2 linked regions of the Homo sapiens genome follow. The protein of the gene in region 1 interacts with the protein of each later gene in a biochemical or structural test. Each region holds a gene or a part of one and is shown in the gene's direction. Other genes may lie near its edges.

Region 1 (2,950 bases):
GTGGAATCGGGAGATGGTAGTCAGGAATCTAAAGTAGTGGTTAGGTTTGGAGCTCATGGGCAGGCTCAGATGGAACCCTTCACCTCAACTTTGGCCCTGTGCCTTTTCCTTCAGGAGCCCCCCCATGGAACTGCAGCCCCCTGTCTCCCCTCAGCAGTCTGAGTGCAACCCCGTTGGTGCTCTGCAGGTGTGTCCCATCCTCATTTCCCATGCATGCCTGTCTTCCCTTGAGCCAGGGGCCATGAGGGAAGGCTATGTGTGTTTGGGGGTGGGGGCGGTTCCTTGTACTGAGGCCCTTTCCACCCCCCTCTCTCCTTCCTCTCACCTAGAGTCTGAGGCTCCTGCGTGGGGACCAGCGTGGGTGTGAGAAGCCTTTTTTCACTCAGCCTCATGCACCCTGTGTCTCCCTTCCAAGGAGCTGGTGGTGCAGAAAGGCTGGCGGTTGCCGGAGTACACAGTGACCCAGGAGTCTGGGCCAGCCCACCGCAAAGAATTCACCATGACCTGTCGAGTGGAGCGTTTCATTGAGATTGGTAACTGGGCAAGAAGGGGTTCTCACAACTCCTCTCCCGCAGCACTCTGGCCCCAGCCACAAAGCAGCTCCTGGCCTCACTCTGCTACACCCCCTGCTCTCTTAGCTTCACAGTCCCTAGCTCAGCCCCTTCCTTTTAGCTTCTTGGCACCCTATTTGTCCCCTTCTCTCTGGCTGACCAGGTTCTCACGTGCATGGGCAGGTCTTGAGTTCCCCTTTCCAGTTGACATTCTGGGGGGACCCTCAATCCAAGTATGACCTGGGTGGAAGCACTGGGTCTGTGGGGAATCATAACCCAGCAGCCCTCTCTCCACATGCAGGGAGTGGCACTTCCAAAAAATTGGCAAAGCGGAATGCGGCGGCCAAAATGCTGCTTCGAGTGCACACGGTGCCTCTGGATGCCCGGGATGGCAATGAGGTGGAGCCTGATGATGACCACTTCTCCATTGTGAGTGGCTCATGTGGGCCGGGCACCGTGGCCCATCCTCCATGCCAGGGCAGGGCTCCAGGGACTTGGGTCTGTGACTCAGCAGTGAGCCTCTCTGGGCCCTAGGTCTGCTTCTGCCACAGTTTTCCTACCAGACCCAGGGTTCCTGGGGCCGACTCAGCCTTGACTGTAGGCCCGCTCTGTAGCTCTGTTACTGGGGTGAGGAGGGATCCCTGGCCATCTGGCCCAGGGCCTGGTAGTTAGAAGGGGCCACCCAGGGATTGACTGGGGGGAGGCAAGCTGGAGGAAGCATTCTTTGTGCTTTGTTCTCCTTTGACGTTGAATGTCTCAATGCCTGGGTCCCACAGTCTCTCGCTTCATCTTTCTCACTGTTCCCATCTTGACAGGGTGTGGGCTCCCGCCTGGATGGTCTTCGAAACCGGGGCCCAGGTTGCACCTGGGATTCTCTACGAAATTCAGTAGGAGAGAAGATCCTGTCCCTCCGCAGTTGCTCCCTGGGCTCCCTGGGTGCCCTGGGCCCTGCCTGCTGCCGTGTCCTCAGTGAGCTCTCTGAGGAGCAGGCCTTTCACGTCAGCTACCTGGATATTGGTATGGCTAGCTGGGGAGCGAGCCAGGGGATGGTGGGGGCTGGACCGGAGCAAGTAGAAGGGGGTGATGATAACGTGAACGCACCCCTCCCCAGGGCTACCTCCCCCAACATTGCCTCCCTCCTCTCTCTTGCTCTCCAGAGGAGCTGAGCCTGAGTGGACTCTGCCAGTGCCTGGTGGAACTGTCCACCCAGCCGGCCACTGTGTGTCATGGCTCTGCAACCACCAGGGAGGCAGCCCGTGGTGAGGCTGCCCGCCGTGCCCTGCAGTACCTCAAGATCATGGCAGGCAGCAAGTGAAGCCCCAGCTGGACTCATGGATGTGCACCCTTTGCTCCCTGCTCTTTCTGCCTCTGGGCTCATGTATCTGCGCAGCTCTGGTACCCTCTGTGGGTGCCATCTCTACCTCTGACACAGACTGCCTGCCTTGAAGCTGAGAAGGCACAGGGCAAGGAGCCAAGGACCACAGAGCCTCAGCCAGCCCAGGATCCGTCCTCATTTTATTGGTGATGATGAATGGGAATGAAATCAGGGGGCTGTCTACTAGAGCCTGGAATAAATATGCTGCTTTGTGGATTTTTAAGCCCTTCTCTTCTGTTTCCTTGAGCAGTGTGGATAGCAGAGGAGGTCACCACATTACTTTTGTGTGCCTTCCCTGAGCTCCTGTTCCAGCCATTCTCCTGTTTTCCTTTCTGGTGGGAGGAGGCTGGGCACAGTGGCCTCGTGGAATGTTGTCGGCTGCCTTGCTGGAGGGCTGGGTTTGGTGGAGGGGAAGGGCAGTGGTTCTTGCCCTTGGGCTTCCACCCAGCCCTGTAAAGTCTCACACAGACACACATGGATTCAGAAGCCAGACAATTTTATTTGGGGGGCAAACATTGACACTTTTGGGTGTGGACCTTGCATGCAGACATATCAAGGGATGACATGTCACTTCTTCCCAAAGCGTTGAGGGGCAGCCAGGCTCCAGAACTGGGAATTCAGCCCCTCTCCAGCCCGGGGACTCAGCCATTCATTCCTCCAGGATCCCTGGGTATTTCTGCCAAACCTTAGGAAAGATTTGTCCTCAGGTCCCCGCAGTCTCCCTTCTCTAGCCCCCTTCCTTCTCCTCTTCCTCTGCCTCCTGCCCTTTCCACCCCCAGCCCCTGCCATGCTTGTGTCCCTTTCAGACTCACCTCTGGGGCTGAAACAGGAAGGCTTGGCTCCGGCCAGGTCTCTCCATTGCCTGGAGCAGGTAGTGCAACAGTGACCCAGAGGTCTGGGCATCCTGTGGTGGGAGGGGTTCGCTGTCTTCCTCCTGTGCCAAGGGGGTATCAGGGAAGGAAGATGGGCAAATACCCTGGACACGTAAGTCACAAGGGGAAGGGACTGGCTTCCAGGGGCAAGT
Region 2 (7,301 bases), on another chromosome or scaffold:
TGTTCATCCCAGTTTGTTTTTGCTTTTCCCCCCAGGATTTTGATTACACAGACATCTTGCAAGCATATTTCCATTCTTTCTCTCCCACTCTGTGCCTGGTGCCCGTAGGATCTGAAATAGCATTGGAATGACAGCTAGCCTTCTGGAACCTGCAGTTTCAACCAAAGAAACTCTGATTCCAGATAACCCAGGAGTTTCTTATCCTGCATAATCTAGGAGTTTACAAAAAGGCTGCTTATGGGTACTCACTGCTAAGTACAATCCACTGCCAAGTTTGGAAGCATTACCTGCTCTCACAACCCAGGGAAAGTAGCCCTTAGTAAAATTCAGGTTTTTTCAAACCAGCCTTAACCTTACAAACAGAATTTATCATCATGATTTTTCTTTCAAATGCAGTACAGCAAACTTTAGGATCAATGTTGACATCGTATTGCGTTTAGTCCTGTTAAAATACTCTCAGTGCCAAATACACACTTCTGCCTTTTTTCTCTTTAGAGTCTAGAATTCTGTGGGGTTCCAAAAATGTATGTGCTTACAACCTTTTATATGTAACCACCTAGGGATTAAAGGGCTAAATGTGAAGGAAAGTATCTTTACAATATTCATCTTGGGAAGCTCTCATTTTGGTGAGTTCTATTAGAGAAAATAAGACACAAGCTCATTAAAAATATATATATATTCTGAGCCTGGCATCTTGGTATAAAATTCAAAACGTTTTAAATCTATTTATTAGTAAGACTAACATAGACCTAAGTGTGAAGACTAAAATATTAAAGCTTGTAGGTGATATCATGGTTGAATATGACCTTAGAGTAGATTCCTTAGGACAGAAAAACACCAACAAGAGAAACAATTGACTAAATGGACTTCATTAAAATTAAAAATTTATGTTCAACAAAAGACACTGCTAAAATAAATACAGAATTTACAGACTAAAAGAAAATATTTGCAACATGTTTATCTGAAAGGGCTTATATCCAGACTATACAAAGAATTCCTGTAGCTCCATAATAAAAAAACAGACATCCCATCCGCATAATAAAAAGAGCAAAAGACTTGAACATATACTATACAAAAGAAGATACAGGAATGGTCAATAAATAAGCAAATGAAAGAGTGCTCGACATCACTAATTATCAGTGGAGTGAAGATTTAACCACAGGGAGATACGAATTCCAGTTCTAGGTATTTTTACCTCAAGTGAAATAAAAACATTTATCCATGAAAAAACTTGTACAAGAATGTTCATAGCAGTGCTCTATTCATAAGAGTGCAAAACTGGAAACATCCCAGAATAGATAACACATTATGGTATAGTCATAGAATATACTATATTTATCAGCAGTTAAGAAGGGAACTACTTATGTATTCAACAACATGGATGAATCTTAAAAACATGGTTAAGGGCCAGGTGCGGTTGGTGCATGCCTGTAATCCAAGCACTCTGGGAGGCCAAGGCGGGTGGATCACTTCAGGTCAGGAGTTCGAGACCAGCCTGGCCAACATGGCGAAACACCGTCTCTACAAAAAAATACAAAAATTAGCCGAGGGTGGCGCACACCTGTAATCTCAGCTATTCAGGAGGCTGAGACATGGGAATCGCTTGAACCTGAGGGGTAGAGGTTGCACTGAGCCGAGATTGCATCACTGTACTCCAGCCTGGTGACAGAGCGAGACGCTGTCTCAGAGGGAAAAAAAAAAGTTAAAAAGGCAGACAGAGGAGTCTATATTGTATGATTCTATTTATATAATCTAGACTAGGCAAAATTTATCCATGATGATAGTAATCAGATTGAAGGATCAGTGGTTGCTTGGTGGAAATTGACTGAGAAGGGAAATAGTCATGTAAGAATACTGGCAAATGTCCTCTTCCCCATTACAAACGTCTGAGAAAGTTACTAGAAAACAGAATCCAATTTGCCTTCTCACCCCCAACTTTGTAATCTTGAATCCAGATCCTGATTCCACCCAACCACTCTGCTGAATGGATAGCAGCTATATTAGAGAGACAATATAGTGGGCCTACTAGTTTTAAAAAGTCATCCAAAGAATGTCATCTACAATCAGTTAAATTAGATTTTTACCCATTACTGAAGTGTGATTGAATTAGGGAAAGAGGAGAGGTGGTCAAAGGCAGCCTTCTCCAGTGGATTCCTTGTCTTCTTGAGATGGTTTTGTGAGACCTTGCCTGGAAGACCTAGGTGGATAGTTTATTTTCTAAAAGTAGTCAAGAAAGCTTGTTCAGGGCATTGAACACTGCAGGGACAAGCATACTTCTTGGAGGCCAGCCATCTCCTGCTGGATCTAAGCGGGGTGGCTTCTGCCTCCACCTCCATCTCAGCTTATTTGAGAGAATCCTAGATCCTTGGTGCAGAAGCCCAGCCAGCCTGTGAAGAAAAGTTGGTCTGGTAGTATCCTGTGAATGACGTGCGGGTTGGGTTTTTCTAAATCTCGTTTACCTGACTCCTACCTTACATTCCAGTGGTGTGACTAAGGAACTGAGCAAACGTAACCCTAGGGGACTTTGAGACAGGCTTTGGTAGTCCATGTGCACTAGAGTGAGGGGAAAGAGGCCACTCCAGAGTTGGGTACTCTACTGTTGAAGGTGAGCCTTTTGTGTCCAATTTTTCCGTGCATGTGTAAGAACAGTTGTCATGGAGATTTACTACTGACTTGTGCATGAGGACAGCTTATATCTCACCTTTTCTTATTCACCCTGTTAAATGTCAAAATGTACTAAGACTTAGGTATTTTTTCTGTGTCACCAACTACTAAATCACCCACCCATGATAGCAGGTAGTTACTGAAACTCTTGTAGCCAAACAAGTGCATAACACTGGTACACATGATGTGAGAGTGCAGATGACTCCTTAGCTTAACTGTGTAAGCTTTTAATTTCTGAGTACTTTTAGGATTGAGAAGTGGAAGACATTCTTGCTCTAGGTATCTCATGCTTCTGCACACCCAGAAGGCTGGTTGCGCCCCCACCCCACCCCCCGCCCCCTTTTTTTTTTTTTTGATAGGGTCATGCTCTGTTGCCCAGGCTGAAAGGCTGGTTATCTTCACCACAGGTCTTATGTCTCAAGGACCACGGGTCCACGTCATAGTCAGGAACCAGGCATGTGTGGGCAGAAATCACTACCACTTTCCTTTGTTGCGGGTGGGGAAATTAAGAGCAGAGATTCTTGGATTCTTAAATTCCTTCTCTATGTTTATGTCATCTAGTCTGTTTTATGCTGTTTTATGTAATTCCCTGCTTCTGGATTTCTTGAATTTTTTTCCCCTTCTCACTTGTCATAATTGGCTCTTGCTTGTGAGTCTATTTTCATTCAGCTTGGTAGCAGAAGTCTTCTTCACTATTGTTTAGATTCAGTTTTCACATGGTTTTAGTAACCCTTCATTGGGTTTAGAATCAACTTTTAACCCTTCCACCAAAAGCTCTTATTTTTTTAAAGGCTTCCCAGAAACATAGTTTCTCTCAATCTCATCAAGAAATGCTTTTAAATGCAGAAGTTAGAAAATGGTGAATAATTATGGCTGTTCCTGGAAGTCATTGTGTCCTTAGTAATTACATGTTGTAGTCTTTGGTTCTGCTTCTTTGACAGCTCCACCACACTGTAATTTAATGGAATTCACTTAGATTTAATGGAATTCAGTCCTGGTAGAAAACTGCTATTGGGTCACAGAGTTGGCAGCAAGGCTGTGAAATTGATGTGGGAATGGGGGTGATTATGTGCTTTGTGTTGACAGAAGTTAGTTTTTGGGACATCCCATGTGGGTTTTTCCCAGGAACATAAACATTTTAGAGAATTAGAGCTAGAAACTTTCTTCTGGGAAAGCCTTAGAAGTCAGTTGTGCTTGGCAGTGAGATGGGACAATGTGCATTCTTAACAGGTTAAATGTGCCAAACTCTCTCTTCAGTACTATTCTTTTTTACGTTTGCTTAAGGTCAAGTTCCTGCTCTTTTGTTCAAAGTCTTGCTTTGTCACCCATGGTGGAGTGCAGTGGCGTGATCTTGGCTCACTGCAACCTCTGCCTCCTGCGTTCAAGCAATTCTTGTGTCTTAGCCTCCCTATTAGCTAGCTGGGATTATAGGCTTGCGCCACCTTGCCTGGCTATATTCAAAGTCTGTCTTTACTACACTGTCCCAAAGTAATCTACATTTGGGTTTGGGTCTTTACAGGGTGAGAAGGACTGGCAGAAATACGAGACTGCTCGGCGGCTGAAAAAATGTGTGGACAAGATCCGGAACCAGTATCGAGAAGACTGGAAGTCCAAAGAGATGAAAGTCCGGCAGAGAGCTGTAGCCCTGTACTTCATCGACAAGGTGAGAGCATCTTCCCATCGGCATTGTCTAGTGTTGAGCTTAACAAAGGGAGTTTCTGCTCTGCCCCAGGCCCTGTGCCACATACTGTATATCACAACTCAACATACATATATTTGTATGTAAAACTGAATCAAAAGTTGCACAAAACAATGCTTAGCCTTACTGTGAGCAGTAGATTCTGATCTTTTTTTAACTCTATTTCATTCCTTTAGAAAGTTGGTTATAACTTATAAAATTGTTTAAATAAACCATGCAGGTATCACCATTATATAGTTTTAAAGACCACGCTCTAGAGGAGATCAATTTCTTGGTACTCACGAGAAGAAAAAAAAGTTCATGTTTTTCCCCCAGTCTTGTATTTTAACATAAGTTCTGAATTGTCTCAAAATTCACACTAGCTTTTTGAGTTTGATTGCCCAGAGTAGCAGCACTCCCTCATTTGCTGCCTTATTTAATTTTTTTTTTCCTTTTCTCCATCCCTATTTCAGAGGACAGAATAGAAAGAAAAGGAGCATGAATATTTAACATCCCTATAGATTTCATAGTGAGTGGGGGAGGAAGTAACACTGCAGAATCCAGAGTTCCCAGGCCATGCTGACTGATGCTGTGGCTTCAAACAGAATTGGGAGGCTTCTGTTTTGGATGCCTAGAAATTGCATAAGGGTCAAAAGGCTGGGCGCAGTGGCTCACGCCTGTAATCCCAGCACTTTGGGAGGCCAAGGCAGGTGGAACACGAGGTCAAGAGACCATCCTGGCCAATGTGGTGAAACCCCATCTCTACTAAAAATACAAAAAAAAAAAAAAAAATAAAAATTGGCGTGGTGGCGGGCGCCTGTAGTCCCAGCTACTTCGGAGGCTGAGGCAGGAGAATGGCATGAACCCGGGAGACGGAGCTTGCAGTGAGCCAAAATTGCGCCATTGCACTCTAGCCTGGCGACAGAGCGAGACTGTCTCAAAAAAAAAAAAAAAAAAAACACAGAACGAAATTGTGTAAGGATCATGTCTCTTCCATTCATGCTCATCTTTTCTTTCTTTCCTGGGCAGCTTGCTCTGAGAGCAGGCAATGAAAAGGAGGAAGGAGAAACAGCGGACACTGTGGGCTGCTGCTCACTTCGTGTGGAGCACATCAATCTACACCCAGAGTTGGATGGTCAGGAATATGTGGTAGAGTTTGACTTCCTCGGGAAGGACTCCATCAGATACTATAACAAGGTCCCTGTTGAGAAACGAGTAAGTTAATGTACCTGTACTGTCTGACTTGTTTTCCATTATTCAACAAGCATGGGTTGACTGCTTTTTTGTGTGCTTTGCACTTTGCTGGGCACCAGCAAAAGTGACTTGAGACAGGCAACATGGCACATGCCTGTAGACCCAGCTATTCAGAAGGCTGAGACAGGAGGATCACTGGAGACCAAAAGTTTGAGGCTGTAGTGTGCTGTGATCACACCTGTGAATAGCCACTGTACTCCAGCCTGGGCAAAATAGTGAGACCTTGCCTCTCATATTAAAATAAATAAAAATAAATGACTTGAAAGAGGGGAGAGGTATTATTTGATATCTTGTGTACCTCCTTTTAGTCACTGTTCCGCCCTGTGCTACCTTCCTGGTAAGGAGTGGCCTTCTCCTATAGCAGTATTCAATGGAGCATGCTGTAGAATAGGCCCTTAGAGCAAACTCAGCATATGATTTAACTATATCTTAGTATCCCCTGGTCATGTGGTACATTTGTCACTTTTCATCTTTGCTCAGCCTTTCTCCAACTCCTGACTGAGTGAAAGGTTAATGTTAGTCCCCAGATCTCTGAGCCCATCACTGAAGAGGGTACTATAGCTCTGTAGTCCCAACCTAATCTTTTCCATAGTATTGGGCTTGAACCAGAGACTTACAGTGTGCAGGATCCTAATAATCCAGCCCACCAGCAGTCCTCTTCTTATAAAGACACCTCTTCTCATAAGGACACCATAATCAGTAATCAGGTTTTGCTGGCTGTGGAAGTACTCTGGACAGATTAGATAACAGTATGTATCAATGTAAATTTTTGAAGCTGATACTGTGTAAATGTAAGGGAATATCTATTTTTAGAACATACACACTGAAATGTTTAGGACCATATTATAAGTAAGTACTTATAAATGTACTTTAGGACCATATTATAAGTAAGTACTTATAAATGTACTTTAGGACCATATTATAAGTAAGTGCTTATAAATGGCTCAGAACAAACAATTATGTATATATATCTGTAAATATACACATGGAGAGAGTGAGCATACATGCACACTGTGCAAATGATGAATGGGGTAAAATGTTAACAGTGAATCTCGGTGACGGATGTATGCGTGTTCCTTGTGCCTTTTTCTTTGCAAGTTTCTTTAAGTTTGGGGTTATTTCTAAAGTTAGGATTTTTTTCAAGAGTAATAATTAGGATTCACTTATATCTTTTAGGTTTTTAAGAACCTACAACTATTTATGGAGAACAAGCAGCCCGAGGATGATCTTTTTGATAGACTCAATGTGAGTAGATGAAGCACACAATGTTGAAGGGAGTCCCAGCCAGAGCCTCACAGTACCTAAAGGGGAGGGTTGCTGGCAGATGACTTGGGCTCTCCCTTTAGCCTGGCCTGCTCTGTGGCATCCCATACACTCTCTCTTCCTCCCTCTGAGTCCACGGTGAATCTGTAGTCAAGAGAAGACACATCTGCTGCAGAACAACTGCTAAAGCACTCAGGGTGGGGGGTAGATGAGCCCTACCTTTTATCCTTCCCTGCTCCTGCAGAGCTTTCCCTTCACTGAATGCCCAGCCACCCCTGCTGGAGACCCAAAACCTGTCCCTGATATCTTAATAGGGAAGGAAAAATTTGCTTTATTGGTTTGTTAAGCCCACCAACCTGGGCCAGGCTTGGTGGCTTACGCCTGTTATCCCAGCACTTTGAGAGGTCAAGTAGGGCAGATCCCTTGAGGTCAGGAGTTTGAG

The links.
Region 2: the proteins of TARBP2 (region 1) and TOP1 interact in a test that uses a peptide from one of them, tested with the Homo sapiens proteins (one study listed by BioGRID).

Annotation. Positions count from the first base shown.
Region 1 is NC_000012.12:53,504,283-53,507,232, forward strand, and holds the end of TARBP2 (RISC-loading complex subunit TARBP2), read left to right. Parts: intron 1-114; coding exon 115-187; intron 188-415; coding exon 416-533; intron 534-852; coding exon 853-980; intron 981-1,366; coding exon 1,367-1,568; intron 1,569-1,708; coding exon 1,709-1,866; 3' UTR 1,867-2,149; downstream 2,150-2,950. Other genes in the region: NPFF (pro-FMRFamide-related neuropeptide FF), read right to left, coding at 2,494-2,611, 2,739-2,950; ATF7-NPFF readthrough protein, read right to left, coding at 2,576-2,611, 2,739-2,860. UniProt on the Homo sapiens protein: Required for formation of the RNA induced silencing complex (RISC). Component of the RISC loading complex (RLC), also known as the micro-RNA (miRNA) loading complex (miRLC), which is composed of DICER1, AGO2 and TARBP2.
Region 2 is NC_000020.11:41,108,599-41,115,899, forward strand, and holds part of TOP1 (DNA topoisomerase 1), read left to right. Parts: intron 1-4,183; coding exon 4,184-4,327; intron 4,328-5,371; coding exon 5,372-5,557; intron 5,558-6,772; coding exon 6,773-6,841; intron 6,842-7,301. UniProt on the Homo sapiens protein: Releases the supercoiling and torsional tension of DNA introduced during the DNA replication and transcription by transiently cleaving and rejoining one strand of the DNA duplex.